Regions from separate parts of the Homo sapiens genome. Here all the other regions are linked to region 1. Evidence: fine-mapped expression QTL. A gene starts in region 1. Each other region holds a variant in brackets. All regions are shown on one strand. Distances are between the middles of the regions. Region 1 holds the start of UMAD1 (UBAP1-MVB12-associated (UMA) domain containing 1). Region 2 overlaps LOC124901586 (a long non-coding RNA gene). Region 3 overlaps UMAD1 (UBAP1-MVB12-associated (UMA) domain containing 1). Region 4 overlaps UMAD1 (UBAP1-MVB12-associated (UMA) domain containing 1). Region 5 overlaps UMAD1 (UBAP1-MVB12-associated (UMA) domain containing 1). Region 6 overlaps UMAD1 (UBAP1-MVB12-associated (UMA) domain containing 1). Region 7 overlaps UMAD1 (UBAP1-MVB12-associated (UMA) domain containing 1).

Evidence for each region.
Region 2: its variant is fine-mapped to the expression of UMAD1 in whole blood (TOPMed, PIP above 0.99).
Region 3: its variant is fine-mapped to the expression of UMAD1 in subcutaneous fat (GTEx, PIP above 0.99).
Region 4: its variant is fine-mapped to the expression of UMAD1 in whole blood (INTERVAL, PIP 0.94).
Region 5: its variant is fine-mapped to the expression of UMAD1 in whole blood (INTERVAL, PIP 0.98).
Region 6: its variant is fine-mapped to the expression of UMAD1 in whole blood (TOPMed, PIP 0.93).
Region 7: its variant is fine-mapped to the expression of UMAD1 in whole blood (TOPMed, PIP above 0.99).

The regions. Positions count from the first base shown.
Region 1 is chr7:7,638,502-7,642,888 of GRCh38, reverse strand. It overlaps UMAD1 (UBAP1-MVB12-associated (UMA) domain containing 1), which reads right to left and starts at 2,137. Exons shown (of 4, transcript NM_001302348.2): 1 at 2,068-2,137. It overlaps RPA3 (replication protein A3), which reads left to right. Exons shown (of 8, transcript NM_002947.5): 5 at 1,714-2,569; 6 at 3,745-3,819. The coding sequence starts at 2,471. RefSeq lists enhancers at 1,677-1,846, 1,927-1,976, 2,017-2,216, 2,487-2,536, 2,907-2,956 and a silencer at 2,317-2,446.
Region 2 is chr7:7,886,545-7,890,931 of GRCh38, reverse strand. All of the region lies in intron 3 of LOC124901586 (a long non-coding RNA gene), which reads left to right. Among named protein-coding and RNA genes, the nearest start is that of GLCCI1-DT, 80 kb to the left of the region's middle. The variant C/G (reference allele first, on the strand shown) is at 1,702.
Region 3 is chr7:7,746,305-7,750,691 of GRCh38, reverse strand. The region is part of intron 2 of UMAD1 (UBAP1-MVB12-associated (UMA) domain containing 1); the gene reads right to left. Among named protein-coding and RNA genes, the nearest start is that of RPA3, 30 kb to the right of the region's middle. The variant T/C (reference allele first, on the strand shown) is at 2,487.
Region 4 is chr7:7,870,851-7,875,237 of GRCh38, reverse strand. All of the region lies in intron 3 of UMAD1 (UBAP1-MVB12-associated (UMA) domain containing 1), which reads right to left. LOC124901586 (a long non-coding RNA gene) reads left to right here. Exons shown (of 4, transcript XR_007060206.1): 4 at 3,995-4,387. Among named protein-coding and RNA genes, the nearest start is that of GLCCI1-DT, 96 kb to the left of the region's middle. The variant T/G (reference allele first, on the strand shown) is at 1,786.
Region 5 is chr7:7,783,235-7,787,621 of GRCh38, reverse strand. All of the region lies in intron 2 of UMAD1 (UBAP1-MVB12-associated (UMA) domain containing 1), which reads right to left. Among named protein-coding and RNA genes, the nearest start is that of RPA3, 67 kb to the right of the region's middle. The variant C/T (reference allele first, on the strand shown) is at 2,658.
Region 6 is chr7:7,877,382-7,881,768 of GRCh38, reverse strand. It overlaps UMAD1 (UBAP1-MVB12-associated (UMA) domain containing 1), which reads right to left. Exons shown (of 4, transcript NM_001302348.2): 4 at 2,546-4,387. The coding sequence ends at 4,231. All of the region lies in intron 3 of LOC124901586 (a long non-coding RNA gene), which reads left to right. Among named protein-coding and RNA genes, the nearest start is that of GLCCI1-DT, 89 kb to the left of the region's middle. The variant T/A (reference allele first, on the strand shown) is at 2,537.
Region 7 is chr7:7,718,923-7,723,309 of GRCh38, reverse strand. The region is part of intron 2 of UMAD1 (UBAP1-MVB12-associated (UMA) domain containing 1); the gene reads right to left. Among named protein-coding and RNA genes, the nearest start is that of RPA3, 2.5 kb to the right of the region's middle. The variant A/C (reference allele first, on the strand shown) is at 2,411.

The sequences.
Region 1 (4,387 bases):
CAACGCCTGCATGTGTGATAAAACCACCTAGAAAAGCTTAGGAAGCTTAACACAAATTTCAAGATAGTGTTTACTTATGGCTGTAGCAAGGAGGGCTTCATTGGGGAAGTGCAAACTGGTAAAATTTACTGGTAACTGGTAAAGTTCCATTTCTTCAGCTGAATGACAGGCCCCATGGATTCATTTCATTTCTCTCAAAACTATGCAAATCGGCTAGCTATACTTTTTTCTGTACATCATGTATTTTATAATATTTTAAGTGACTCAAAAATACACGAAAAAGCTGTTTTAAATTATCTTCCTGCTCATCTCCCTGTTTTAAAAGAAAGCCTTTGCTTAAAAGTGGTCTTTCTAACTGCAGGTAAACAACGACATTAACATCTGGTACTCACAGGAGTGCTCTTTAAAAAAAAAAAAAATCACTATTACAGGGTACGCACCAAGGCTCACACCTGTAATTCCAGTACTTTGGGAGGGAGACGGGGGAGGGAGGGATCGCCTGAGCCCAGGAGTTTGAGATAAGCCTGGTCAACATGGCGAGGCCCCATCTGAACAAAAAAAAACAAACAACAAAAAAAAAATCTTTATTAGCTGGGTGTGGTGGTATGTGCTTATAGTCCCAGCTACTTGGCAGGCTGAGGTGAGAGGATCGCTTAAGCCTACGAGTTAAAGGCTGCAGTGAGCTATGTGCATGCTACTGCACTCCAGTCTGGGTGACAGAGAGAGATCTTGCCTCAAAAAAAAATGCTATTAAAGACATTGATGTGTGTACTCTCCCCTATATAATGCACATCAACTTGCTTTGCAAAACAATGCTAAAGTACAAAAGACTTAAAGCTGTAATATAAAATAGACTTTACTGACTTGCACCAATACAACCACAACTTTTTTATACACCACTGACACACATTCTACATCTGTTTAATGAAATCCTTTAAAGTACCGTTAGTGAGTAAAACTAAGACAAACCTATTAAGTGCTAAGGAAACACTAAGGGAGACTATCATTTAATTATCGTACATGAGATTCCAATCTTAAATTGCCACGTGAAGTCTCAAATCGGATCTTTTTTGCTTAAGGGAATTTGAACGATGACAATTCTGTAGCTTTGGGCCAATTCACAGACTCAGTTTCCACAACGTTATAATACCCAATTAAAACTTCTGTCCAATTTCCACCGTACCGTTTGAAGGTATTTTTATGTGCACTCATTCTAGAATACTCCTGGCAAGGCCGCCGGCTTCGGGTCACAAGATGAGCCAGGGACAGATTGGAGACTACCCCCAAATCTCCCAGGAATCGGTTATCTTCCAGACCTCCAGATCGCCCTCCAGAGTCTCGCAGTGTGGAGGGCAACGACAGAAAGACTGCTGAGGGGGTTTAAACTGTTGAGTCAAACATATGGCCAAAAGTCAGAGTCAACTGGGACCTTGCAAATCATTCCGCCTAACCCTTCGTTTTGCAGATGGGGAAAACACGCCTCAGAAGGGAGAACCCTAGCTCGGGGAACCCTAGCTCGGGGTCTAACAACGATTTAAGCTTGTCTCCCCTAGTACTGGCCAGTGGTTCTTCCCCGTTACCCATCCTTAAGTGCTTCTATTGGCTGCCAACACGGAGGGGTTAGCGGGGTGAAAGAACCGGCGCCTCCGCAGTGTGGCCAGGTTGGGCTAAAAAACGTCTTAGAAGTAATCGGATCAATCTCTCTTCTTACAGGTGGAGAAAGTGGAGAAAGTAGAGTGACGCAGCTAAGGGAGTAAATCGACCCTCAGCCAACAAGTGGCAAAAGCCTGAAGAAAGTGATCAAGATCACTGATGACCCCGCTGCCCATCTCCAAGGGGGCGGGTATCACAACCCCGACGCCACACCACGTATCATTCCGCAAAACTCCCGCGCCTCCCACGCAGAACTGGCAAGAGGGAAGGCGAGACAGCAGTGAACAGCTGGTACGCAGCACCCACAGCACCGCGGCAGCAGCTAGTGCCGACTCCCGCCTAGCTCTTTTGACTCTGTTCGCGGGAAGAATGGGGAAACAGTAAGGTTGCGGCGCCTCCCGCGAGACGAGGTACCTGAGGCTGGCCCCGCAGTCCCCCGCCGCACCAGCACCGGAGCTTCACACCCCACTTCCGGGGTCAAGTCACCGCCGGGAATCCTGTGATCGCAGAAAGGTAGTCTCAGGTTCCGCCCCTATCCAAGTCCCGCCTCCACTGCCTCTCGCCCTGTATCTGTCAACTTCCGGGACGCCGCGCGTCACTAAGCAGCCAATCTCCACTTCCGGACTCATCCAGCCCCTTCTCCACCCCTTTCAGAGACAGCGCGATTGCGATTTAGGTTTCCGCGCATTTAATTGGCGAAGCTGGAGCGCTAGTCTTCGCTGATTGGTGCCGAGAAATCTGCCCCATAGACACCCGCGGGGCGCACAGTTTCAGTCGTCCGTGGGTTTCCCGCCAGCCGCAGTCTTGGACCATAATCATGGTGGACATGATGGACTTGCCCAGGTCGCGCATCAACGCCGGCATGCTAGCTCAATTCATCGACAAGCCTGTCTGCTTCGTAGGGAGGCTGGAAAAGGTGTGCGGGTTCGCAATCATGGGCTCCCAAGTCCGTAGCTGGAGGGAGGGACCCCGCCTGGATAACGGGGGATGAAAAAGGACGGAAAGCCTCCGATCACTGCGCCCCCGACTCCTTTATTTTGCACAAGGAACTTTTTGGAAATTCTTTAGCCGTTGTAGCCCCATTTTGGCGCTCTTTTATGGCACGGAAACAAAGTGTTTTCAAATGCTGAGTTCTAAATTCCAGTGCCCGTCGCCTCCGTTCTAGCCGTGCTTACGTAAGGGAAATTATAAACACCACTCCCACATCTACCTTCAGATTTCTTAGTTTACTCAGACGTGACGGACGCAGACAAAACTAATCTGCTGGTTTCCTTCTCTTCTGAAATTACTTATTTTTGCAAACCTCGTTTCCTCGTTGTGATCGCTTCTCTGTAAAACATGCCTTGGTTGTCCGCTTTGGGTCCCGTAGTAACGAGTTATTTAACCCCAGTATTAAAGTGAAGTTCCCTCATTCTACAGGCGAGAAACAGGCCCAAAGTCTTGGAATCAGTGACCTGAAAAGCTGAGGAAAAGAAAACTATTATATAAAGACTTATTTAGTAGCTCATTTCATCCACACATCCTCTTCCTTAAATGAGTGTTGCTCTGACTTCCCAAGTAGGGAAACTGAGTAGGAGTGGTAGGTGGTTGACTAAAATGCTCAGAAACTCGGCAAATGGCAAAGCTGGCATTCAAACGCAATCTGACAGCGCTCTTTACAGCTGCTTCCCAGGAGTAGGACCCAGATATTCTAGCAACCAGTTCTCCTTTTACTTCATCATGCCTGTTTTTTAAAACATACCCTCCGTGGGATATGTACTGTCTAAATCATGAGTGCCAGCAGATTTCACTTTTAGGGTGGGCATCCTTTAATTTGTTATCAGAATAGGGTTGCCATATTTAGCAAATACAGAACCTACTTAACACTACAAAAAAAATCCTTGTTTATCTGAAATTCAGAAATTAACTGTGTGTTCCATGAACAGATTTGATAACATAAGATTATAATTTGATCCAATAAGTTGAATAAACTGAATGAATAAACTGTTCAAGAAACAGTTGATTTGTGCTCAACTAAGGATCAATGTACTCATCTTTAGTCAAACTTTGTTGTTGTTTTAGTGAGATTTTAATTATATGTTTCGTTTTTAGATTCATCCCACCGGAAAAATGTTTATTCTTTCAGATGGAGAAGGAAAAAATGGAACCATCGAGTTGATGGAACCCGTATGTTTAAGTGTTAATAAGTCTCTTATATATTATAGTTAATTCTTCATCTTGATTTGGTTTGTTGCCGATGTTTCTAATTTTTGCAATGGATTTAAAAAGGATGAGCTGGTAAAACGTCCCTGGCTGTAAAATTTAATTCTTGTACTATTCTCTCATTATATTTCCTTTTACATTTTTAACCAATGATTTTTTGGGCGTCATGATTTTTGAACATATCCCATAAATGTTGGATAACAATTCTCATTCCTTATGAAAGACCATAAAATCACATAAGAAAAATTTACGTTGCTTTTTTCTTCCTCAAGAGGTTTTTTGTTTCGTTTTTGTTTTTTTGTTTTGAGACAGGGTCTCACTCTGTTACCCCGGGTGGAATGCAGTGGCACCATCATGGCGCACTGCAGCCTTAGCCTCCCAAGATCAAGTTGCTCCCATGTCAGCCTCCCCAGTAGCTGGGACTACAGGCATGCTTAACCATGCCTGGCTAATTTTTGTTTTGTTTTGTTTTGTTTTGTTTTGTTTTGTTTTTTGTAAAGATGGCATCTCCCTATGTTCCTCAGGCTGGTCT
Region 2 (4,387 bases), 250 kb before region 1:
ATAGTTCTACAATCAATCGTGAGCTTCAAAACTTTGATTATAAGAGGTGCATCTCTGGGAGAGGATCTGCTTTAGGGGAAGGAGCATATACTAAAGAACACATTTAAACAGGGAGTGGGAAAGAGGTGGGGAGGAGGGAAGGTAATCCCCCTCTAGTGACAGTGGTGATAACACATCTTACTTCGGCATTGAAGACCTTTGACACTAACATAGGCGGTCAATCATTTGAGATCCAACAACTCCAATAATGTTTGGAAGTCAGATATTCATTGAGCACCTGCTGTGTGCAATGTGTTTTATTACATAAAATCATAATCAGCTTGCCCTTACATATCTTACAATGTACTTAGAGAGTTAAGATTCATCACACAATATTGTGAGAAAACAAGTGGAAGAAACAGTGGGAAAATCCGAATGCCAGAGCCAGAGGGGCTCTGAGATGACATGTGTCGGCCATTCCTGGAGAACACATTCATGAGGGGGCTGAAAACGGAGCTGCAGTGAGCGTTAGTATGTGTGCAGGCAGGATATAAGACCAAAAGAGGGAGCAATACCATCAACAGAGGAGTGACATGGCACCAGAAAGGAGATAAGGAATGAGTAGGTGTAAAAGAGGTTGGCTTGACTGGGCCCTGTGGGAAATAAGGTTCAATAGTGAGAATGGGGCCAAAAAGGAGACATGTACTCAATAGTTCATTATTTCCAGGCTAGTGACGAGAATATGGCTTCATGTCTAGGTGCTGCAGCTTTGCATTCTGTTTTATCACCACCACCCCTGTCCATTTGTCCATTCTTTCTATATCTTGTTGCATTATAAATCACACACTCCAGGCAAGGTAATTAAAAAAATAATAAACTAGCCCCAACAAATTTTCTTGGATGCTCTGAATAACCAGTGCTTGGCCTCTGAATCACCTCCTTCCCTGACTTTCATTTAAACTGGCTCACTTACTTGGCATTTCATGATGATCAAACCTGTCTTTGGTGGTCAACTTGATACTGTTACTGCTACCTGTAATATTAGACTCTAGAATGAAAAGTGCTAAGGATACAGAACTTGTCTTTTGTGTATTATGTTTTGTCATGCTTAGGGTACATTTTCTGGCACTCTGTATTTAACAAGCATAAGAAAGCACACCCAGGCTGAAGGATATCACATTTGCTGTACTTCAACACAACAAAAGCAGCAAGCCCAGTGGTCTCGCCCCCTAGAGTGGTTAGAAATTTCACTGGGAAATGAGGCCCTTATCACAATCCACATAAAAAAGAAATCATGCCTCAGGTGTATCTCTACATATACTAGAAAAGCCCCAATGGAAACAAGCCTGAATGGAAATAACCTACACCCAGAAGACAACTGGTTTGCTTAAAGGGGGTTTAATTCCTACAACCACTCTCTGATAGTTAAATATTGCCAAGCGTAGAAACTTAAGAGTTGCTTAAAATTACTCAAGTGGGAAACCTAAGGTGGGTATAGAGAGTTTCAGCAGGTAGTCTTTCAATTTGGAAAAGAAGAAACTATTGACCCCTGACACTAATTTAATCTAGCATTTTAGTCAAAAGGCCGGGCGCGGTGGCTCACGCCTGTAATCCCAGCACTTTGGGAGGCCGAGGCGGGCGGATCACGAGGTCAGGAAATCGAGACCATCCTGGCTAACACGGTGAAACCCCCGTCTCTACTACAAATACAAAAAAAATTTA[C/G]CTGGCCATGGTGGCGGGCGCCTGTAGTCCCAGCTACTCGGGAGGCTGAGGCAGGAGCATGGCGTGAACCCGGGAGGCGGAGCTTGCAGTGAGCCGAGATTGCGCCACTGCACTCCAGCCTGGGTGCCAGTGCAAGACTCCGTCTCAAGAAAAAAAAAAGAATTTGTTTTTAAGTTCTGGAGGCTATTTTTGCTGAAACTCTTTCTAATGAAAAATTGTATGACTTCTTGATGTTACAAAGTATTTGCAACTTGTTATTTAGGTAACAGAAATGAGAATTTTGTTAACCAACAACAGGGTTTCTTCTCCTCCTCCTCCTCCCCCTCCCCCTCCCCTCCCCCTCCCCCTCCTCCTCCTCCTCCTCCTTCTTCTTCTTGGCTAAATCAAAGTTTTAAGAGATTGGCTACTATTCCCCATTTATTGAAAATGATGTATTGCATACCTGCACTTGCATCTTGGGAGAGAAGGGGACCCATGAAGAGGTTGCAATAACTAATGTGGTAACCACACTAGTTAGAAATTCAGTTAACTAATAGTGCACAAAATCATTATAATCCATTACAGAAATTAAAAAGTTAAATTCAGTCAGTAAACTGGCTATCAAATAAATGGACCAGTTAAAGAATATTTTAGAACCTGTTTTGATTGCATGAAAAATCGAAATTGTGGTTTTCCTTTCTCAAATAATTGTTATTTTTCCTCAAAAGCAAAATGAGCTTATCTTTCAATATGGGCCATCACCAAAAGGGTTAACATTTCCAAATCCTTCAGTAAGGTTAGATTACATAAAAACAAAATGCTACAGCCCATTAAAAAATCAGGTATTCCATTTTATGGTACATATTTAAATCTATTCAAGTCCATGCTTTGAAAAGAGCCATGTAACTTAATTGGCATTAAATAATGTTAATTTAATAGAAGGAGGAAGAAAGGTCTTCCCAGGTAGATATTAAAATAAGCCAAAAAAATAGGCTAGGCACGGTGGCTCACGCCTGTAATCCCAGCACTTTGGGAGGCCGAGGTGGGTGGATCACTTGTCAGGAGTCTGAGACCACCTTGGCCAACTTGGGGAAAGCCCGTCTATGCTAAAAACACACACAAAAAATTAGCTGGGCGCGGTGGCTCACACCTGTAATCCCAGCACTTTGGGAGGCTGAGGTGGGAGAATCACTTGAACCTGGGAAGCAGAGGTTGCAGTAAGCTGAGATTGCACCACTGAACTCTTGCCTGGTCTACAGAGTAAGTGAGACTCCGTTTCAAAAAAATAAAATAAAATAAAAAATAAAGTAAACCAAAAAATAAAACTGAAGTTATAATACATAGATCCAGCCAGCCATGGTGGCTCAATGCCTATAATCCTAGTACTTTGGGAGGCTAAAGCAGGAGGATTGCTTAAAGCCAGGAGTTCATGACCAGCCTGGGCAATAAAGTGAGATCCCATCTCTACAAAAATTAAAATATTAGCCAGGCATGGTGGCAGGTGCCTATAGTCTCAGCCACTGGGGAAGCTGAGGTAGGAGGATCACTTGAGCCCAGGAATTTGGAGTCTGCAGTGAGCTATTATCACACCACTGCACTCCAGCCTGGGAGCAACAGAGCAAGACCCTGTGTCTAAAATAATAATATTAATACATAGATTCATAGTAACTTACATCCCAAAAATTTAATCTGAAGACTTAACACTGTCTGAAAGATTATAATAAATATAAAATGTCTTTATTGTATTAATGCTGATACAGGTCACCAAACAAAAGGGGTAGAAATTTAAAAAGCTAATTTATTTAGAATACAAGATATGTTTGGGAGCATTAAAGAAATGTAGCATATTCTAATAGGGATATCTGAAAGGTTTCCTTAAAGGCTTCCAACACAGACACAAGGGCAACATCTAATAGTCTAATATAGATGGCATATAAACTCATGTATTTCCTTGAATCAATAGTGACTCAATCATTCACCTACTGGACAAATTTTACCGAGCACACGCTGTATGTCAGGCATCATGTTAAGCACAGAAGTCTATATGTTGGTATCAATTCAGAGTTATGAATCAGACAGGGAACAAACAATTACAATACTATGGATCAAGAACCTTCAAAGAGGGGAGCACAGGTTAGCACAAAAACATGGAAAGAGATCAGTGCAGCTCAGCAAAAATAAAGGAAGACTCCTAGAGGAGATGATACAGAAAAAAAAAGTCTTGTAATAGGATTTAGCTGGGTGAAGAAGGGAAGGTCAGGGCATTCCAGGGAAAGGAAATAGAATATAAGGATAATCAAAGAAATTATGGCATGTTAAATGGCGCAGGGCATTGCTCAATAGGGCAAGAACACAGAATATATGAATTGCAATATCATTTGCGGAGGCTGGAGAGGCAGGTGGGGGGCCCTTGTTTGCCTTAAAATGCCTCAATTTTCCAGAGACACCACAGAAGCCCTGAGGAATTTATCTGTATTTCTTAATATATTTCATCTGGCTTTAGAGTAGAGGATGGATGGGAGGGAGGCTTAACTGGATGTAGGGAGATCAGTTGGGTGAAATGATAAAGACCGGGACTGAAGCAGGAGTAGTAGTAGGTCTGGAGTACATATTTGACAGACAAATCTTTTAGATGTATAATTAACAAAAGTTTATCATCAATTGAGTATGGAGGTAAGAAAGAAGAATGGATAGATTCTTAGATTTC
Region 3 (4,387 bases), 110 kb before region 1:
TGGGGATAAAATAATGCCTACCTCATAAGTATACTGGTGAGGATTACATGAATTCATGTTTGTAACTACTTAGAACAGTGCCTTACACACAGTAGTGTTGTATATGTGTTTGTTAAATATAAGAAAAATATGAAACCGTGTATAATATAAAATGGGCCGTCATTAAAGAAGCTATAATCAAGAAATCAGGTAGTTATTCTAATTGGAGTGGAGTTTTATTATTTTCCATCAAGTATTGTACATTTCAAACTGCCAAAGACAATTAGTTCAAATTTAAAAGCACAAACACATTTCTGGGCCAAATAAACAATTTGTACATTATCAATACCATATCTATCTCTGATAATGAGGAAGTCAAAGACTGACAAGCAGCTTAGTAGAGCCTGACAGATGTGAAATGGACTCTAGCTGGGCAGTTTTAAGGAATTTATTTAATTTTTTGGAAACTCCGTTTCCAGATTTGGGCAAATGGGTATAAATACTACCTAGACTTCTTAAGATATTAGTTAAAATTACATTATATAAGACATATATAAAGAGCTAATATGTAGTAGAAGATACTTAATGCATAGAAGTTATTATAATTGCAATTGACCATAATTCTATTTTGCTAATATTCCTCCTTACATTATAGACCACTGCTTCTCACCATTCTAGCAGTATAATTAAGAATATTTATCTTCCCTATTCACTTTTGTTAAGATGTCAAACATAATCAATGTCTGACCTTGTCTTGGACTGAGACTGAATAACATTGGTGAAAGAGATCCTTCATGGATATTTATGAATGCAAATGTGACACATAACGTCCTTTCATTAGTAGTTACTTACATTATTAAAAGTTTTACAGAACTTAGATAAACTATCCTGGAAAATAATACTCTTATCTTAGACGTTTTCTGTGTAATAAATGTTTCAATTTATAGCACCTTTTATGAGAACATACAAAAATCTCAATATATGCTATTTTATAAATCTTTTCATCATATCTACATATTAGATCACAGCAAATATCAACGCCCAGTTTTATTTTAGAAAAATATGAGAGTAAAGATTCATGACTTGCCCTCCTAAGCATGCCAAGAGGGGAATTCACATAATTTCTCACTTTTCTGAAGGAAGCCTTTGCCACCAGTACTGAGAACACTATAAAATTAAGTACTGGAAGCTAAAATTGCTAAATATTCTATAAGCCATGAAAAAAACGCTTACCCACTCCCATTCCTGGAAAAGGCATTAACTAATGTTCCTCAAATATTTTTCCTTGGATTAGGCAGAAACAGTTCAAACCCACAGAAGACACATAGCTTTCACGTGGAATACGGGCTATTAAAGTGTGCACTGCTGGAAAGTAATTAAACCATACTGTACTCTCACTGAGGTGAGATTATAAAAACCTAGAAAAGAGTCCTTCAAGGAAAATGTGTCAAAACCATTTAAATTAATTTAGCACATCAAATTTCACTCTATTTATTGTGGAATTGTTGCAGTTATTTTAACATTAAAAAGAAGTAACTGATAAATTGAATTTGTTATGGAATCCCCCACAAACCTGTCCTCAAATCTATTATAAAACACCAATACCAAGTATGGAAAGGCTCATGCTAGAAAGTTTAAAAACATTATCAAGGGAAATTTTTTTTAAGCAAATACAGAAATCAATGCAAAGCAATCACACTGATCTGGGCGAAGAAGAGCCCAGAGTAAAAGAAAATCATGTGTAATAGGATATCTCTAGCACAGCCAGAAAAGGAGGGATAAAAGAGGGAATTAGGAGTGTGAGAAGTTTGGCAGTTCTTAGATTTACTGATGACCCTGCCTGGCTGATAGAGCTAAATCCTAAAGTATCCTTCTGATAAATATTACATTATTTTCCCCAAATTTTTGCTCCTAAAAATAAAAGAATTTTTTAAATTTTTATATATACAAATATATAAATATACACATATACTTATATGTCTATAAATGTACTACTCATCCCCAAAGAACAACATGATAGGTTGTATTTTAACAGGAATGAAGGTAATAGATGGGAATTTGGTAAATGTGTAAATCGGCATTATGATTATATTATTAATATTAATGTGCCACCACAGGAAAATGTTGATAACCTTGCTGTAAATGTAAATCTAAGCCAAAAATAAGTCCTTCCTCACTTGATCCCCTCAAAAAATTACAGCAGCTCTAACAATGAGACATTGATTAATTTATATTCCAATCTGGAAATGGTTATCTAGTTCTGTGGCAGAAGTAGATTTCAAAATATCACTGTTAGTCTACCATATGTCTAGAAATCTTTATTTTATAAATGCATATTGAATTCATATGTTATAATTTATGGAATATAATTTGGTTTAAGGAATTATTATATTATAATTTTATGACATAAACAATTACATAACAAAAAGTAAATAATAAAACATATAACTTTATAAAATAAAACATATAGGCCGGGCACGGTGGCTCACGCCTGTAATCCCAGGACT[T/C]TGGGAGGCCGAGGCGGGCGGATCATGATGTCAAGAGATCAAGACCATCCTGGCCAACATGGTGAAACCCCGTCTCTACTGAAAATACAAAAAAAAAAAAAATTAGCTGGGCGTGGTGGCAGGCCCCTGTAGTCCCAGCTACTCAGGAGGCTGAGGCAGGAGAATCGTTTGAACCCAGGAGGCGGAGGTTGCAGTGAGCCGAGATCACGCCACTGTAAACAAAACAAAACAAGAAACATATATAATCATAAAACATATACTTTATTAGATGATTATGCATTGTTTTCCTACTTTTTTGGCTCAGAAATGGCACATCATCTAATAATTCAATGATTTAGATTTAATTTCTATACATTTTCCCCAAAATACAGGCAAAACTTTCTTTTCCTCTAAGGAAAATTATTTGTTAAACTGAAAATAATGAAGACTAAGTTTTCCATTAAATGGAGAAATAAGGCAACCTAGCAGGTAACAATGAAGATTTCCCATTTCCTGAAACCCTGACCTAGTGGACTCAATGCTAGAGATGAAAGGACCAAAAACCTCCATGTTTGTTCTGTTTTGAGTTACTCCTCTGGCAGCCTTCTCGGCAGTTTCAATTGCCTAAAAGGCTTATTATTTCTTGGAAAAAATATACTTCATAATTACTAAGTGTCATGATAACCTAAGATTTGACGCTTTCTGACTGTCACTGTAATGGAAAGAGAGCCATCCTCTACTACTCTGTGACCTTGACCAAGTCACTGCATATCTTTGAGTCTTGGTTTTCCTCATCCATGAACCAAGATGGAAACATTTGCCCTGCCTTGTTCTAGGGATTTCTGAAAGGACCAAATAAAGTAGCACGTATGAAATGCTCTATGATATAGCAAGTGTTAAACAAATGAGGTGCCATTAATAGTTGCAAGAATAATACTGATTACCTAATTAAATTAAATATACTTAACTGTAGTGGGGCCTTTTGAAACTCTCTCGTTTAAACAATTTCTGTTCTCCTGTAGCAACTCCAAAACAATACTAGGATTTATTCCTTCCCTATTATTTAGGTAAAAGTCTTCATGGCCTAATGGCTAAAGTATCTCATTACTATTTCTCACCATGCACTCGAAGGCAACTTTGCCTACTTAACAATAAACATCATTTCTAATTAGATATATGAAGTGCCTAAAATAAACATGGCAATAACTTCCAATAACAGTTCACACACATACACACAGACACACACACACACACACACACACACACACACAAACATGCACTCCACTTAAAAGAAATATAAACATTTTTTTAAAATCTCTTAAATCTATAGGGCCTTAATACCAGAAGATAGCAATAAGAAACAGGATTGTATGTGTAAACTGTGTCAAAGCCAATAATAAGGCATTCTCAAGTTGTGTTTGAAATTCTTTAAATAAGGTGGCCTTTTTAGCGAATTAAGATAAAGGTGTGAAACATCTGAGGGACAGGGCATTTGGCTGGCATTCTGCCACATTCTGCACCAGATAATTTCAGTTGCTGCTATTTGTCTCATATGTTTTTTATTCTTCCTCTAGGGAAGTCAAAGCCTTTTCACTTGCAGGCCAATTTTACTGTAGCTCTGGTAACTACTTTACAAGGTGATAAGCATTCACAAGAGGCTTTTATTAGGCCAGTAGCTAAGGCAAAAACTACATGCACATATTTAAGCAACGTGTGTGAAATGAAAGACTTTAAACGTATGTGAGTTCCAAGTTAGCACACGAAAACTGCTTATCTAATGAAAAGGCTGGGGATAAGAGAAAGGAGCATTTTTAAATAGTCTAAAATGCAATTATAAAATTGTATATTTTCTTTGCCTTCAACTCAACATATCAGGTTGTTTAATTAACTATATCATTTTCTGCATTTGCTAACCCATTGCT
Region 4 (4,387 bases), 230 kb before region 1:
TGCTTTCTCCCGTGGGCATTTAGTGCTATAAATTTCCCTCTACACACTGCTTTAGCTGTGTCCCAGAGATTCTGGTACGTTGTGTCTTTGGTTATAAATGCTAATGGTTATAAATGCTGACAAATTCTTAGACTGTAAGTCTAAAGGAGAAGAATAATTTTCTGGGCCGGGCACGGTGGCTCACGCCTGTAATCCCAGCACTTTGGGAGGTTAAGGTGGGCAGATCACCTGAGGTCGGGAGTTCGAGACCAGCCTGACCAACATGGAGAAACCCCGTCTGTACTAAAAATACAAAATACTTCATAAGGGTGTAACTTGCTAAATTTTTACAAACTGAATACACATGAGCAACCAGCGCCCAGATCAGGAAATAGAAAAGACCAGCCCCCAGAAGCCCTCCTGGTGTTCTCTTGCAGTCACAATCAACCCCCGTCCTGTCAATCACTATCCTTATTTCTAACAACACAGAATTGGTTTTACCTGGTTTTGTTTTTTAATTAATTAATTTATTTATGTATTATTTTGAGACAGAGTTTTGCTCTTGTCACCCAGGCTGGAATGTCCAGCTACTTTTTGTATTTTTAGTAGAAACAGGGTTTCACCATGTTGGCTAGGCTGGTCTCGAACTCTTGAGCTCAGGTGATCCACCCTCCTCAGCCTCCCAAAGTGCTGGGATTACAGGCGTGAGCCACTGTGCCCGGCCTGATTTTGTATTTTAAATGAATGCAATCATACAGTATGAACTCTTGCTTCTGGCTTCTTTTACTCAACATTATGTGGATGAGATTCATCTAAATTGTTGCATGTTAGATGAAAAAAATCTTGAAGAACATATTGTTGGAAAGGTGATATATTCTGACTGATGTTTTAAAATAATCACCCTGGTTGCTGGGTTGACAGCAGATAGTAGAGGTGGGGTGGCCGGGGAAAGAAGTGGGAAGATAGCTGGGAATGACAGATTACTTATGAAGTCGATTAGAGCAGGGATAGCAAAGGTGAGATAAAATGGTTGGATTTTGGATAGACTTTAAGGGTAAAAGGAACACAATTTGCTGATGGAATGGACGGTGGGGATATGAGAACAAGAGCACAGTTAAGGATAAAGCCAAAGCTCTTGGCCTGAGCGATGAGACACATGGAATCACCAATTATAGGGATGGGAAAGAGTACCAGAGAGCAGGAATGGGTGGGAAGATCAAGAGTTGGGTTTTGGAAGTTTCAGTGCCTAGCGGACATCAGGTGGAGCTGTTAGTAGGCAGGGGGATATAATTTGAATCTGCAGCTGGACGAGATCTGGTGGAGAAAGTGGAGAGAAAATTAGAACAGACAGTATTTTCTAGGTGTTACGATGTAAATGAAGAAACATATATGGGCCAGTAGTTAAAAAGGGATGTGTAGTCAAGAAAAGTTTCTTTTGATTTTTGTTTTTCAAGTTGGGAGAAATAATGACAATTTATAAGCTAATAAGAAACAGCTCATAAGAAAGGAAAAAATCCATAGAGAATTTATAGAGAAGGAACTCGTCACAAAGCATCTCCAATACCTAAAACAGAGGCCATCAAGAAATATTTTTTAGTGGATGACCTCGAATTAGTAAAGTTAAAAAGCACATGCCTATAAGAGTGGTCTTATAATTTCATGTGAAAATAACACCAGAGTACTGTTTTAGGACTGCAACTAACAAATGTAATCATACTCTATTATGATAAAGCTTGTTATAAAGATGTACATCTGCAGTGGGCAGATCCTGTCTCCTGAAATCTAATTGGGACTCACCATGCTAAT[T/G]ATCCTCGGGTCAGCCAAGAGTGCAGGTATGAGTAATGACACCACCATTCTATTCTCTTTAAAGGGCTTCTCTATACACTGGTTTATATAGAAAAACTGAAAGGGAAGCAACGTTTGGGTGCACCATAAAACCTCAAGATTCCATATGCACCGGGGCTTTGATCACCTGTGAGCAGGAGAACAAAGTGGTTAGGAGCACAGATTCCAGAACCACGCTGCTTGGTATAAATCCCAGGTCTCTTGTTTATTAATAAGCAAATGGCCTTGGGCAAAATATTTAACTTCTCCGTGCCTCAGTTTCCTTAGCTGTATTATGAGATTGATAACAGTTAGCTATTTCATAGGATTGTTAAATGCAAGGATTAAATAAAGTTATATTTATAAGTAAGCAGAACAGTGCTCGGCACAGGTTAAAGTAAGTGAATAAATAACATTTTAGAAATGCCAGATCCCATTTGGGTTTAGATGAAGTTTAGAATCCATTCATCTCTTTTGACACTCACTGGTAGTTCAAATAATACCTTTCCCTCTCCTTTTATTTCTTGCTTTCTCTCTTAATCTCATGTGTAAATGTTCCCTAGATCTGGTAGTCTCATCCCACTCAAACTTTCTTTTCTTTTTTGGTTGTGTATAGAATGTTCTAGAGTTTCATTAGCGAAATCATCTCCTTTTTTAAACAAAAGCATTCCTGACATCCCACATTCTGCACTAAAGTGGAGGTATAGGCATACATTCTTTTATTGCACTTTGCTTTACGGTACTTCATAGATACTCCATTTTTTACAAATTGAAGGTTTGTGGCAACCCTGCATCAAGTAAGTCTACTGGAGTCATTTATCCAGCAGCATGTGCTCACTTTGTGTGTCTATGTCACATTATTATAATTCCCACAATATTTCAAATTTTTTCGTTATTCTATCTGCTTTGGTGAGGCATGATCAGTGATCTTTGATGCTATTATTGTATTTGTTTTGCAGTGCCACGAACCATGCCCATGTAAGATGACAAATTTAACTGATAAATGTTGTGTGTGTTCTGATTGTTCCACCAACTAGTTGGCCATTCCCCTATCTGCCTCTCCTCAGACTTCCCTGAGACAGCTCAGTATACTTTTAATTAAGACATGTACATTTGTTTAGACATACTGCTATTGCACACTTAATAGATGACAATATAGTGTAAGCATAACTTTTATATGTAGTGGGAAACAAAAAAATTTATGTGGCTCACTTTAATGCAATTTTCACTTTACTGCAGTGATGTAGAACTGAACCCGAAATATCTTCGAGGTATGCCTGTACATTACCTGTAGCATTTTGCTTTCTAAACACACAACTTCTTTTTTTTTTTATTTTTTATTTTTTATTTTTTTATGGCTGAGTAGAGCAGACTTTACTGATGGGACATGAAGGCCCCCTCCTCTTTCGGAGGTCTGCATGGAACTGCGGAGGGGAGATTCTTGATGTGGTGGGAGACTGAGTGTGGCAAGGACTCCCCAGCAGCTGAGGTTCTCTCTCTTCCTCTTGAAACACGCAGTGCCTAAGGCTTAACTCTCCAGCAGCAATATTTATTCCTCATATTTTTATTAATCCTCTTTTTTTTTTTTGACAATTCTCTGTTATTTGTGAGAACGTAATTCCTTGAGGACAAGAATGTATCAAACTATATCTAGTACAGTAAAAAAATTGGGACATGCTTTCTCATTCAAGTTATCCTGATAAAACTGCCATCTGACCTGAAGGGGGTTGCTTTACCCATTTGAGCCTCAACCCACTATTATGTAAAATGAGTGAAGAGGGACAAAAGATGAAGATGATGAAGACAACTAGGATGACAATGATGACAAGACAGCAACTAGCATATACGGAACACTGTGTCAGGCTGTATCTAAGCTGTTTAAATGTATTTGCTCATTTAAGTCTTACAACAGCCTTGTAAGGGTATGTGCTCCTATTAGTCCCGTATTAAAGACAAGAGGAAACTGAGGCACAGAGAGGTTAAGGAAGTTGTCCCAGATTACACAGCTTGTCAGTGGTGAAACTGATAATCAAACCCAATGACCATTAAAGCTCTATATTCCAAGATCCTGCACATTTCAGACATGCTTTGGATAGAATGATTGACTGAATGAACAGTGCTTCAACAATTTTAGGGTACAGCATTAGAAAATATAACAGTTATTAAAGTAGCATATCTTGGCTTAATTTAGGAAGAAAAAAGATGCTAATATTTTGTACCTTAAAGAAGAAAGGACTGAGAAAATCATTAAGGTGACAGATCTTACAGACAGGCTGAAGAAGGATGGAAAAGCAACTCTAGTTTAAGATATATTTATCCCTGGAAATGAATCTACCAGCAGTCTGGATAAGACCATGGGAAAAACACCGTGGACAGTGAAAAATTGTCTGTGAGTTGATAATTATTGAAACAGACATGAAGGTAAGTGGGAATGCACTATAGTATTCTTTCCACCTTTGTATAAGCTTGAAAATTTTTCATAATTAAGTTTTTAAAAATTAGTTTAACAATACGATGGGCAAAGTGTTCCACCAAATGCCTCCTAGGATGATGTGAATTTCAGCTGTGCTGTAAGTATTACTCC
Region 5 (4,387 bases), 140 kb before region 1:
AAAGAGATTTTACTGGGTTCTGCATAGTTACAATGGAGTTTGAGGTAAATAACATGAAATATAAAAGTTGGCTGAGACTCCAAAGGAGTTTTGATAAAGTAATTTTATTTATCATATTGTATTCAATGCTGTATTTTAAAGGTTGCTAATATGTATTTGATTAATTTTAAACACCTATATTTTCAAAGCAGTACTATACTAGAAACACATGGCAGCAAACTTGCAATATATTTTTTAATTCCTCTAAAAACAACAGTACTGTTTCAAAAAATCTGGAGTCATTTCAGTTTGTAAAGAAGGAATCACTAATATCAAGACTGGTTAAAGAGTAAAAACATTTACTCCTTTAAAGTTATGAAAATCATATATGGTTTATATACTTTAAACCTGTATTTCTAATTACCAACAAATTCCACAGTACTGCTTGGTTTCATAAATTAGATATTCTTGAAATTAGACCTACTTCATTAAATCCCCATCATATATTTATATCATCATGACTCAGTGTTTTCAAATAAGTTCAGCAGTTTTCTAGGGGGCAGGTTTAGTGAAATTAGAATTCAACTGGACACGTGCCTTATTGCAAAACAGATTTTAAAAATTCTAATCTCTAATAAGTTGTTTTAAGGCTTGGAGGACTAGCATGGAATAAAAGAGAAACATATTAACTAACCAGCTGTTTTACGCAAAGTTGTCTAAGAGTAGCGGCTTCACTCAAATCAACTTGTCTCAGTCAAATCCCTTCTCTTCTCCCACTCCCATGCTTTAACCACATCCGGACTTAAAGTGAGGCAAACCTTCCTCCTCCTATGGCTGTCAGGTTCTCTCTTCACTCTGTGAGAAAGCACATCAATCCCAGTGAGAGCAAGGCATCTGGAAACCAGAGCACAGTGGCAACAGGGAGAGCCTTTCAATCTAAGGCAAGAGCAAAGTATTTCTCTTCTGCACTAAACTGATAATAAATTCAGTGGGCAATAATCCAAATTATAATAACAGTAAAGACTACAGTTATTATGTAAAAAATATTTCTCTGAACAAGGCTTACGGGGGGTGGGAGGGAATTCTGAATGTTTACTCTTCTGTAAACCATCAGCTGATCTGTACACTACGCATCTACCTCCCCATCTCATAGCAAAATTAGTAAATGATGATGGTTGACATTTTCAGTAATGTAACGAACAGGAGCTGTGCACCACCTGATAGACTGCAATGAAAAGAACACATAATTATTGTGATATTCCTAGCAAAAATTCCTGAATCATAACCTGCATCTAATTGCAAAACATGTCAGACAAACTCAAATTGAGGGATATTTTACAAAATAATTAGCTTGTGATTTTCAAAAATGTCTAGATATTGAAGGTCATGGAAACACTGAGGAACCATTCAAGATGGAGGGAAATTAAAGAGACATCCCGAGTAAATGCAACATGTGATTCTAGACTGGATCCTTTTGCTGTAAAGGACATCACTGGGACAAAACGTAAATGTAGGAGATGCCCTTGCTTTTATGAAATGCACACTCAGGTATTGGAAAGTAATGAGACATCATATTGTCAATTTACTCTCAAAAGATTCCAAAAAAACAAAAAGCACTTTGTACTGTTTTTGTGACCTTTTAAGTTTGAAATTATTTCAAAATAAAAAATAAATGAGAGGAGTAGTTAGGATGATTAGAATACATGAATATGATATACAGATAGGTACACAGATAAATATATTGATAGATACATCTCACAAGTTCCTTTAACCCACCAACTAAAATGGAACTAATCCTTTACCCCTTTCACCTTCTCCTCCTAGGTACTCTTTGTGTCAAGGAAGAAAAAGCATCACCAATTGCCCTGCTTCCTCTTCCTCCCTCACTCCCCACATCATGTCAGTCAGCTAGCTGGCTCTTTTGTATGCTGGCCTCCACGTTCAGCTTTCTAAAGCCACTGACTCTACTCAAGTTTAGGCTACCATGATTTCTGTGATTTCCACAAGCGGCCACGCAATCAATCTCCCTTCCTCTACTTGTTCTCCTTCCTTCAATCCATTCTCCTACTCTTTCTTAACACAGACCTGGCCTTTGCCCCATCCCACAATTATTTTATGGCCCCTATTGTGCTTAGGATAAAGGTCAAATTCCTTTTCATGGCTTGTAAGTCCAGGATGATCGGTCCCCTGACTAACTCTCTCATCCCTTTTCATCCCTTCGGTTCCAACTCTACACTCCAATCATAAAACAACTTTCAGATCCTCAAATCTGCTTCCGTTCAGGTGTGCTACTCTGTGTGTCTTGAACATTCTTCCCCATTCCATGTCACCTCTTTCCACTGAACACACAATCAATATTGAAGAAATATTCAATGAGTAAATGAATGATTGACTTCTTAAAAGTCTTACTGCATTTCTCCCAAACCACTGTTCAGAAAGTTTTCATTCTATCACAACTTTTTACCATACCCAGATTCACTTCTTATACAAAATTCTATGCCTACTTGATTTATTGGTGTCTTTTTCTCTTAACCCGCTAAAATCTGAAGGACTGATACCAGATTCTTTAGACACTTGGAAATGACCATACAGGAAAAGTTCTCCACAAATACTACACATGCCACGAAATCTCCAACACAGTTCAGACAATTAGGGAACCTTTCTAAGAAGGAAGGACA[C/T]GGTGAAACCCCGTCTCTACTAAAAATACAAAAAATTAGCCGGGCGAGGTGGCGGGCGCCTGTAGTCCCAGCTACTCGGGAGGCTGAGGCAGGAGAATGGCGTGAACCCCAGGGGGCGGAGCCTGCAGCGAGCCGAGATCGCGCCACTGCACTCCAGCCTGGGCGACACAGCAAGACTCCGTCTCAAAAAAAAAAAAAAAAAAAAAAAGAAGGAAGGGCAGAAGCTAATGTAAAACATATTCAGATGATATGGTAATATGTAACTGGGTTGGTCTTGTTTATTTTCTGATATAGCACTTTTCCTCAAAAGATTTTAAGTAGGCCGGGCACGGTGGCTCACGCCTGTAATCCCAGCACTCTGGGACGCCGAGGAGGGCGGATCACGAGGTCAGAAGATCGAGACCATCCTGGCTAACACAGTGAAACCTCATCTCTACTTAAAAAAAAAAAAAATACAAAAAATTAGCCGGGCATGGTGGCAGGTGCCTGTAGCCCCAGCTACTCGGGAGGCTGAGGCAGGAGAAGGGCGTGAACCCGGGAGGCGGAGCTTGCAGTGAGCCAAGGTAGCACCACTGCACTCCAGCCTGGGTGACAGAGCAAGACTCTGTCTCAAAAAAAAAAAAAAAACAGAGATTTTAAGTAGAAAATTTTAAGTCATGGAAATCACAATTTCCTTGAAAATTTCATGAAAGGGGACAAACTCCTTATAATAAGCTCTTTCCAATAACTTTATTAAGTAGGAATGATTTTGCTGATTTAATAAGTGAAGCAAATAACAAAAGAGAGTTTAAAAAGTTCCCAGTGTCACAAAACTCCTAAATAGCAGAGCCATATTTAAACTAAAGTCTGTCTACAGTCAAGATCCACACTTCTTCTAATACAATTATAAAAGGAAACAATTCACTCAAAATTTTCTTCATAAGCAATATCCACCTTCAGAATGGCATACTATCAGTTTGCCATAGGCAAACTGGATCCATTTATCATCTTTAATTTCTTCCTTAATTCTTTAATTTCTTCTTCATCTTTAATTTCATCTCCTTTTGGTGAATGTACTGAATTAGAGTAGACAGCATACCGTGTCAGTCTTTGGTCTTATTTTGCTTAACCAGAAGTACAGTATACTGATCATTTTATAACATTGTACAAAACAAACTGCATTACCGCGTATAACAGGGTGCCTATGAAAACAGTTTTTTGTTGTTAGTTTTTAAGTATTCTGCTGGTGTAATTGTTTCTGGCTTTGGTGCTTTGTTTCTACTTTCTTTTAAGGACTTAGAACCAGTTTTACGCCTCTCTAATGAAAGCACATCAGTTTACCTCTATAATTCCCAATAGTTCGTTTTTAAGCTACAAATCTTGGTAGTTAAGACCTGGAAGCAGCCTTTGAGATTATTTTGGCTAGTGCCCTTCATCCTCATTTCCAAACCCATTTTATAAGTGAAATCTGAATACAGTGTCCTGATTGTCCATTCTGATTCTCACTTCCCAGCCTCGTAGCTCAGCAAACACCCAAAGACACAAACCGTGCAGCATCTGAATTTCTCTTTTAGAAAAAAAAAAAAAAACAACTTCTATTCTATTCTACAAAAGATAGGATTCTCAAGTTGTCATATTCCAATTCTACAGTCATGAGAAATAATTAATTCCTTTGATTTTGATAAGAGAAAAAATGTATTTTAATAACCAACAGCCCTGGCTTACAGACTATTCTGAGGAAGTTACAACTA
Region 6 (4,387 bases), 240 kb before region 1:
ATAAAAAGTCTGAGAAACTGTTGAAGCCAAGAGGTGCCTAAGGAGATATGACGACTAAATAAATGTAATGTGCTATCCCAGGTAGGCTGCTGAAGGAGAAAAAGGACATTAGAGGAAAACTATGAAATCTGAACGGGGTGTGCAGTGTAGTTAATTGCAATGTACCGGTGTTGATTCCTCGGTTGTGACAAATGTACTGCAGTTACGTGACATGTCAACAACAGGGGAAACTAAGTGAGGGGTATGTGGGAACTCTCTGTAGTACCTTCATAATTTTTCTGTGAATCTAAAACTATTCCAAAATAAAAAGTTTATTTAAATTTTTAAAAGACTGACATATTGTCACATCGACTGAAACAGAGTTCCCTGCGTCAATCAATACCTCTTTCTCTCTTTCCCACACACGCCTATCTGCCAAACCATATGGCAAAAAGAGTCCTTTTCCTGAAACATAAGAATACTTAATCCTTCAAGCCACTGTAGTATGAATGGAATTGGACTTATTCTGAAAGTTTTAGATTTCCCAATAATACCTAGGTCATGCCCTCAGTAATATGGGACAAATGCTCAAAAGAGAATGTCAATAAACCTGTATTTCCCAAAAACTTTAAAAGATAAACCATCCTTCAACTGCATTTCCAATAAACTTATATTTTGTGTGAGTTATTGACATAATTAATAAGATAACGCACTAATCTCTGAAAGAAACATATTCTTTGCTAGATTACTGAGGGCAGTGTTCACTTATTGATCAATTGTTACCATGGGAGGCACAGAGGTAGTCTGATGTACTACGGTTTCAGAACATGAGTGAGATTCTTTCCTTGCTTCTCCTTATCTGTCATTTAGAATTATGAGAAATGAAATCTCTGGGAATTTTAGAAGAATTTTTTCATACTGTTTTGAATTTACCATTTTTCTTTAAGAGAAGAAAAAAATAAGTGTTGACGTCAATGAATATTTACCTTAAAAAACTATTACGGATTTGATTTGCAATTGTTAATAAAAATTGTGGCTTTGTTAACATTTTAATGGTACAATTTTAAAAGTTCAGTTGATCAAAATTTAATTAGCCAGGATAATAAATTGGTCAGAATCGCCTCTCTCATTCTGTTTTTAGGAAAGAATGCAAATGTCTTTAAAGAAAGCTTGGGAAAAAAATACATGCAAGTTCTTGAATATATTTTAGGGCTAAAAATAAGATTCAAGGCTGGGCACAGTGGCTCATGCCTGTAATCCCAGCAATTTGGGAGGCCTAGGCGGGTGGATCATCTCAGGAGTTCGAGACCAGCCTAGTCAACATGGTGAAGCCCTGTATCTACTAAAAAAAAAAAAAAAAAAAATTAGGCATGGTGGCAGGCACCTGTAATCGCAGCTACTTGGGAGGCTGAGGCAAGAGAATCGCTTGAACCCAGGAGGAGGAGGTTGCAGTGAGCCGAGATCATGCCATTGCATTCCAGCCTGGGTGACAAGAGCAAAACTCTGTCACAAATAAATAAATAAGATTCAGTAAAATCACCTGCACATTCCATATCTATAGTACTTTGCAACAATAACATATATTAGGAAAAAGACTGTAATAACGAGAAAAAGAAAAAAATGTTCACTATGGAATTCTTAGTTAAGGCAGAACAGTCAACTAACATATTTTAGGAATATTTCTCATAGTAAGGTATTTAATATGGAAAAAAATAACTGGGAAGGAGGGGGATCTACAGTTAACGTAGGTAGCTGTTTTATTTATGTTACTCTTCAAGAAGTTCAATTAATATGTATTTTGCATTTCATTATAGTATTGTGTGTGTATGGTCAATAACGAGAATTATAACAATCCCTTTCCCAGAATACCGATGATGTGCAAGGCTTTAGGCTGCCAGGCATTTGACATACACCACCTATAACTTAACACAACGCTACAAGTTATGAACAATTAGTGTTTCACAATTGAGAGAACTGAGGGCACCAGAAGTTAGGGGACTGATTGAAAGCCCCACAGCTTATAAAGGAGGGAGCCATTACAAACTCTGTCTGGCTGCCTCAATTGCCTGAACTCTCTCCCACCATATCATACAGCTTTGTTATCATATATTATAATTACTAACACTATTAAAGTAGGCATTTATTTATCACTAAGTGATTTAAGTCATTTAGTCTTTCTAGGCTTCAATTTTATCTTGGGTAAAATGAAGTTGACGTATTGATTTCTAATGTTTCATAGAAATATTAATTTATATACAGAATAAAAAATTAAATGGTAATTTTCACAATATTTTTGTTTAAAGAAGAAGATCATTAACATTGGCCCTTACTAAATGTTGTGATGATGGTATCAATCTAGAAATGCTCATGTCATCTCTCTCAAATCCCTCCAGTCCTGTTAAGCCAGGACTAGGGATCTTACCATTTTTAATGTTATTCCTTAAAACTTACATGTAAGAGGAAATCGTATATTTTTCCCAGCACTATACAAACTATATACTTAAACTTTTTGGCTCCTAAAGAATTAACAACTTGCATTCAGATATAAATAATGCAA[T/A]CAAACCCATTTTTCTGGATCTGAAAATAATCAAAAATTTTATTTTAATTCACATTTATTTAAATATAACATTTTTTATAGACACATGAAGGTACTTATGAACATTTATAACATGGTAGGCACAAATATAGATGAAATGTTTAGGTATTTTCGACAAAATTTCACACAAAATTAGACAAACTGACTATGTGCTTGCATTTAATTTCAAGGGTACATTAACACAGATATTTGAAAAGGATGTTCTTTTACAAAACTACTACAAAATGTTCACGTTTGCATCAGTAATAAGTCATATTTCCTAGACTGATGCTTTGTAAGAACTATGTAAAGATCTAATTTAATCATTAACACCATATGGTAACATTATATGTAAATGAAGCATATTTTTGTCAATAGAAATGTTCCTCTAACTTTTAAATAACATAGCATTTGTATTAAAACCATGCCACATTTATTAAACAAACATGCATAATACTTTAAAACTGGAATAATTCATGTACCTTTATGCACAGTGTTTAGTTTCACTATGGCACTCTATCTTTGTGAAAAAATATACTTAAAACTTGGCACAGAGTTAACAAATCATATTGCTGGTAATCAAAATAAATGTGATTTCAATTTCCCATGACATAGAAAATTCTCTATCACAATTTACCTCTTCCCTTTACAGTTTATTGACCAATGGCAGTTCTGTTTTCATTAAAGTAAGTAATGGATATTCAAGAACTAAAAGTCATATCTAGGTGTTCTGCCTATACTCTAATTGGAAATGAGTTGATTTCAGTTTTTCCAGCAGTAAAACATTTCCATCTCTATTGTGGCCAACAAATTTCTAAATAAGGGTGTTATCAGCAATAATATGTATCATCATGAGATGTTTTTCTTCAGGAGGCAGAGGGGTTGAAAGGAAATGTGGATCTCTTCATAAACTGGGAACATATGTGGTAAGGAGAGCAAATGGCAACCGAGGCAGAAGCAGGGAAAGTTCTTTGGAAAGCTGGTCAGAGAGCACACTGAAGTAGCAAAAAGGCAGAGAACAAAGGTGGGAACACAACGATTATTCACGATGGAAAGGGCTGCCATGGGTTTCAGAAAACCGAAATGGGCCACTCCAGAAAGAGCACGCAGAGCAGGTCTAGCATCCTTGTATCAGCAAACTAGCACTGCTGTTTAGGACAAGTTTTAAATTTCCACATCAATGCATCTGAAGAAATTAAGCTAACTGGCAACTTTTTTTCTGAATTCATTCATAAACACTGTGGAAGAAAAAAATGCAGGAATAACACCAATTCAACTTCCTACAAACCAGAGAGGAGACTTCACACCCACTTCTTGCTCAGACTTCGGAGCTGTAGTGACTGAAAAATGCCACAATTCTTTTTCACAGTTCTTCTAAGATAAATTTGAGGTGTTATATTTTGAGAGACCATCTGAAGGAATCGAGTCCTTTCCTAAAACCTTCATAGCCTAATTTGTATATTTATTATATGGGAGAAAGGAAGTAGAACTTAAGTTCAATTTGTATACAAATGTACCTTTTTCTTAAAAATAGAGTAGTGAACATAATGCTATTTTCTTTGCTTTATGATCCTTGCTGAGGACCTTAAACAGTGAAACGGCAAAGAACATCAAACAGGTTAGATAAAATAGGCGAACATATTTTAAAGCTGTTAAGGTGCAAACAGACATAAAGGTTATGAATCACAGAGCACTGAATTTTCAAGAGTGAAATCATACCAAAACCGTGATAAGTTTTCGCTGCCATCATAGGAGAGTAAGTGGTCGGGAAGGTCAGTGATGGTGCCCTGTACTGCCAGCACATGCGGGGCCAGGGTGAACGGCACATCGCTC
Region 7 (4,387 bases), 80 kb before region 1:
GCTTGATCTAACTCTATGTTCCTTCCACCATTATCCCACACCCTTAATATCAATTCCCACGCCTGTTCTCCAGATTTCTGCTTATGTAAACTGAAAAATTTAAGCAGTTCTTCTCAAGTGTAGCACACCTCCTCATGGGTCACACTCTGAACCTTGCCTCTAGGGGCCCACCAGGACTTTAGTCTAGTTATAGCTCTAGAAGCAAACAGGGATGTTGGCAGTGGCTCCTGAGGAGAATCAACATTATCTTGCCTGGCAACTGCTCAGGGGAGGCCATCACTGTTGCCTCAGGCAGTGCAGGGTTTATCTCCTCAGACAAAGGTGGAAAGGCTGATGGCAGCATCGGTTGGAGAGGGAATGTTGCCAATACTGGGGATGGAGAAGCTGTTTCTTCTGGCAAAAAAGATTGATCAGGGTTTACAAGCTCAGTGTCCCCAGCTTCATCAGGGTCCTCCCACACGTCCCCATTCCAAGTTGCAGGGTCCCATTCTTTTCCAATCAATGCCTTCACTTTAACAGTAGACACCTGGTGAGGCTGTGCATGCACCTTCCATTACAGGTCAGCCACCCACATGATAAGAGCTTGTGTCTGTTTTGCCACAATTTCAGCTCTTTCTCTACAGGAGGTAAGACTCTCACTGAGGGCAGTCTTAGGAGATTTAAGGCTCAGTATATGCTTCTGTAGCCAGGAGTCAGAATCCCTGAATTCATCATTTTCCTTCATCACTTTGTCCAGTGAACTTAGGAGCAACCAACCAACTTCATTACATTCCTTAGTTCTCCACATACAGCCTAAGGTATTATGTACAGAGTCACTAAACCCCTTGTCTCACATGGGCGGTAAATCAGGAGTGTCAAATGCATTTATTTTGCATAACTGTCTAAACAGTTCATGCCAAGGACTATCAGTGTTCTCTATACCATTAGAAGTAGAGTCCTTCGCATTATTGGGTCTAATCATATTAAGCAGCCAACTCCAGAATCCCCAAAACCAACGAAGGAACTCCATCCTTAATATTCTGTTCCTCTAGAACCACTCCTCGTACCAAAATCTATATTAGTCAGGGTTCACTGGAGGGACAGAACTAATAGTATATATCTATATATCTATATAGATATATAGATATACATATATATACATATATATATATAGAGAGAGAGAGAGAGTTTATTAAGGAGTATTAAACTCACATGATCACAAGACCCACAATAGGCCGTCTGCAGGCTGAGGAGCAAGGAAGCCAGTCCAAGTCCCAAAGCCGAAGAACTTACAGTCCAATGTTCAAGGACAGGAAGCATCCAGCATGGGAAAAGATGTAGGCTAGGAGGCTAAGCCAGTCTAGCCTTTTCACGTTTTCCTGCCTGCTTTATATCCCAGCCAAGCGGGCAGCTGATTAGATAGTGCCCATCCAGATTAAGGGTGGGTCTGCCTTTCCCAACCCACTGACTCAAATATTAATCTCCTTTGAAAACACCCACACAGACACACCCAGGATCAATACTTTGCATCCTTCAATCCAATCAAGTTGACACTCAGTATTAACCATCACAGATGGGGAGTTCAGTAAAATCCCTGAGAGGGCAGGTAGCAAAATCCTCATGGACAATCACAAAAAAGATCAAGGAGGAGGAAGAGGCAGCACAGAGATTGATTCACTGCCTCTGCAGAGATCTTTCCTGGGGTGGAAGTGAGTTTTCATTCCAGTAGAAGATCATAAAAGTGACAGTTCCTGCTGATGACAAAAGTCTCCTCCATATTTTATGAAACATAACTCTGCCATCACCATTTACTACTTATTCAAATGCATGAGCTTCCTTTTAAGGAAAAATGGCTCCTAATGGCAGTATCCCCTACGGCTCACAATTATGCAGCAGTAGTGTGGTTTTCACGCAGGTGCCTTAACATTTAAAGTAGAATTCAAATTTGACCACAATGACAGGTCCAGAGCTCATGAACCTCTGCACACATATGGAATATGTGAGAAAAGAAACTTGTCAAAAATCCAAATGACAGAAAAAGAGATTCACATACTGTATTAGTTTCCTAAAGCTGCCATAGCAAAATGGTACAAACGTGGTGGCTTAACACAACAGAAATTTATTCTGTCACATTTCTGGAGACTAGAAATCGTCAATCAAGTTGTCAGTAGGGCTAAGCTCTCTCTGAAGTCTCTAGGGCAGAATCCTTCCTTGCCTCTTCCTAGCTCTGGTGGTTTCTTGCAATCCTTGGTGTCCCTTGGCTTGTGGTGGCATCATTTCGATCTCTGCCTCTCTCACATGGCCATTTCTCCTCTGTGTCTCCCTGTGTCCAAATTTCCCTCTTCTTATAAGGACATCAGTCAGTGAAGGAGGAGGGCCCACTCCAATGAGTATGACCTCATCTTAACTTGATTCCATCTGCAAACAGATT[A/C]TATTTCAAAATAAGGTCACATTCATAGGTACTGGGGGTGAAGTCTTAAATATACCTTTTTGGGGGGACAGAATTCAACCCATAACTCATACTAACCACCTAGTCTGGATTACTAGAAGGCAGCACACCTGCACTTAGCCTTCACTGAAGGCTCTTAATTCTTCAGTAAAATGCCCCTTGTTTTAATAAAAATGTTTAAATAAAAATACACAAAAAAACAAATTGGCTTCTTCTACAAAATCACTATTGAAGATGCTTTTTTTTCTCAAAAAGTCTTTTTATAATTACCATGAAGAAAGTTTATTTCTTTTGATGACAGTGAAAATTTTTCTTTTGTTTGGCAATTAGGAAGCTTACTAGTCAGCACTATAGTACTGTACTAATACTCAGTAGTCTATAGTACCATAATACTACAGTAGTCTGGGTGTTTCTCAAGTTTAGATGGGGAGAGTAAGTTAGGGGGGGAAATGATTAAAAACACAGATGCCTGGGACACACTCCAAACCTATAAAATCAGAAGTGATGGGGAAGAGGCCCAGGGTTATTCGCTTCTGACAAGCAGCCAAAGTCATTCTGCTGTATACCAACTGTGAGTGCCACCAGCCTAGGGTTTTTACATCCCATTTCCCCCTTTATTCTCAGAGATGTATAGTTTGTGACTTTTATATTTTAATGCTCTTGTGTCCTTTATTGCAAGCTATATTTTTTTTAGCTATTTACAATTAAGATTAACAAGCAATTTCTAAGTATTCTACTTCTGAACTATACATTTGAAATAATACTTGTGACTGTATTTTAGGTTCTGTAGCACTTTTCCAAAAATGACATACATTTTCAAACAGATGGCTTTATTCATGCTTACCAAGTCCCTCTGAGGTACACTGGAAGAAGAAACTTTATTCCCTTCAAAAATAAAGGCTCAAGTCCAAGTCAAACTGAGTACTTATTAAACACCTTTAATGTTCAAGACCCAGGGAGGTACTTCTCTGAATATGGAAAGGTTAGTGTACCACTTAAACACAGTACACTGATTTACCATCTCTTGTTTGTACAGAATTAAATAGTCTAGACAATTTAATTATTTTAATTGATCAGTGTAAGTTGTTGTGAACAATTCAGAATAAAAGCTCCAAGTACAAGTACTTTCTTTCCACATTATTCTTCTCATCTTCAGTTCACATATGAAAACTAAAGCCTCCTAAACTTAAGATTATAAAGTACTGCAAAGTACAGTAGTCACTAACGTGAAAAAAAAAACTACTACTTTCCATGGCTGTCTATAGCTCAACTCTCTGAAAAATATACAGTCGGTTTGAAGTCTTTTGTGAAATCCCTTGTGAGACTCTACTGTTGACTGTGGTTAGAATACATTCAAAAGTATAATCAGATTGCATCATCACCATCACCTGCTCAGAGGCAAGTTGAAGAAACATGTGCTCATGAGGCTGAAGCTGGCTTATTGTACTACACTCTCATGTGGGCTTGCCAGAGAGATTAGTCACCATTTTGCAGCTGGTTTCAAATTCAGTTGCTGCGATACAAGTGCAGATGCAATGGCTTACCCTAATTATATTGCTCCAGTTTAATCTTTCCATTTGTAGCATACTATATACTGGATCAAATTCAAGACTCTGGATTGGTTTCAAATAGAAGAGATTTCAAAATCACACATTTGTTATCCTCTCCTAAAGCTTGCTGATCATATTTCATCATTGTATCTGCTAGATCTTCTGAATTCACCCTAAAGGTGTTTTTAGCTCTCTAAACCATCACTAAATCTTGATAATTAATAAAAATGCAGAAAAAAACAGTTCTTAAAGCTTTTTTTAACACAATAAAAGGAAAGTTATGTCATCTCCAAAAATACTCATATGTTTTTTAAAATTTCAATTTTCTTCCTCTTTGGAATTAAATATATGAGCAAATTCTAAGGAAATTAATTGTAATCAGTGGTTTCTAAACTTAACTGATGGTCAA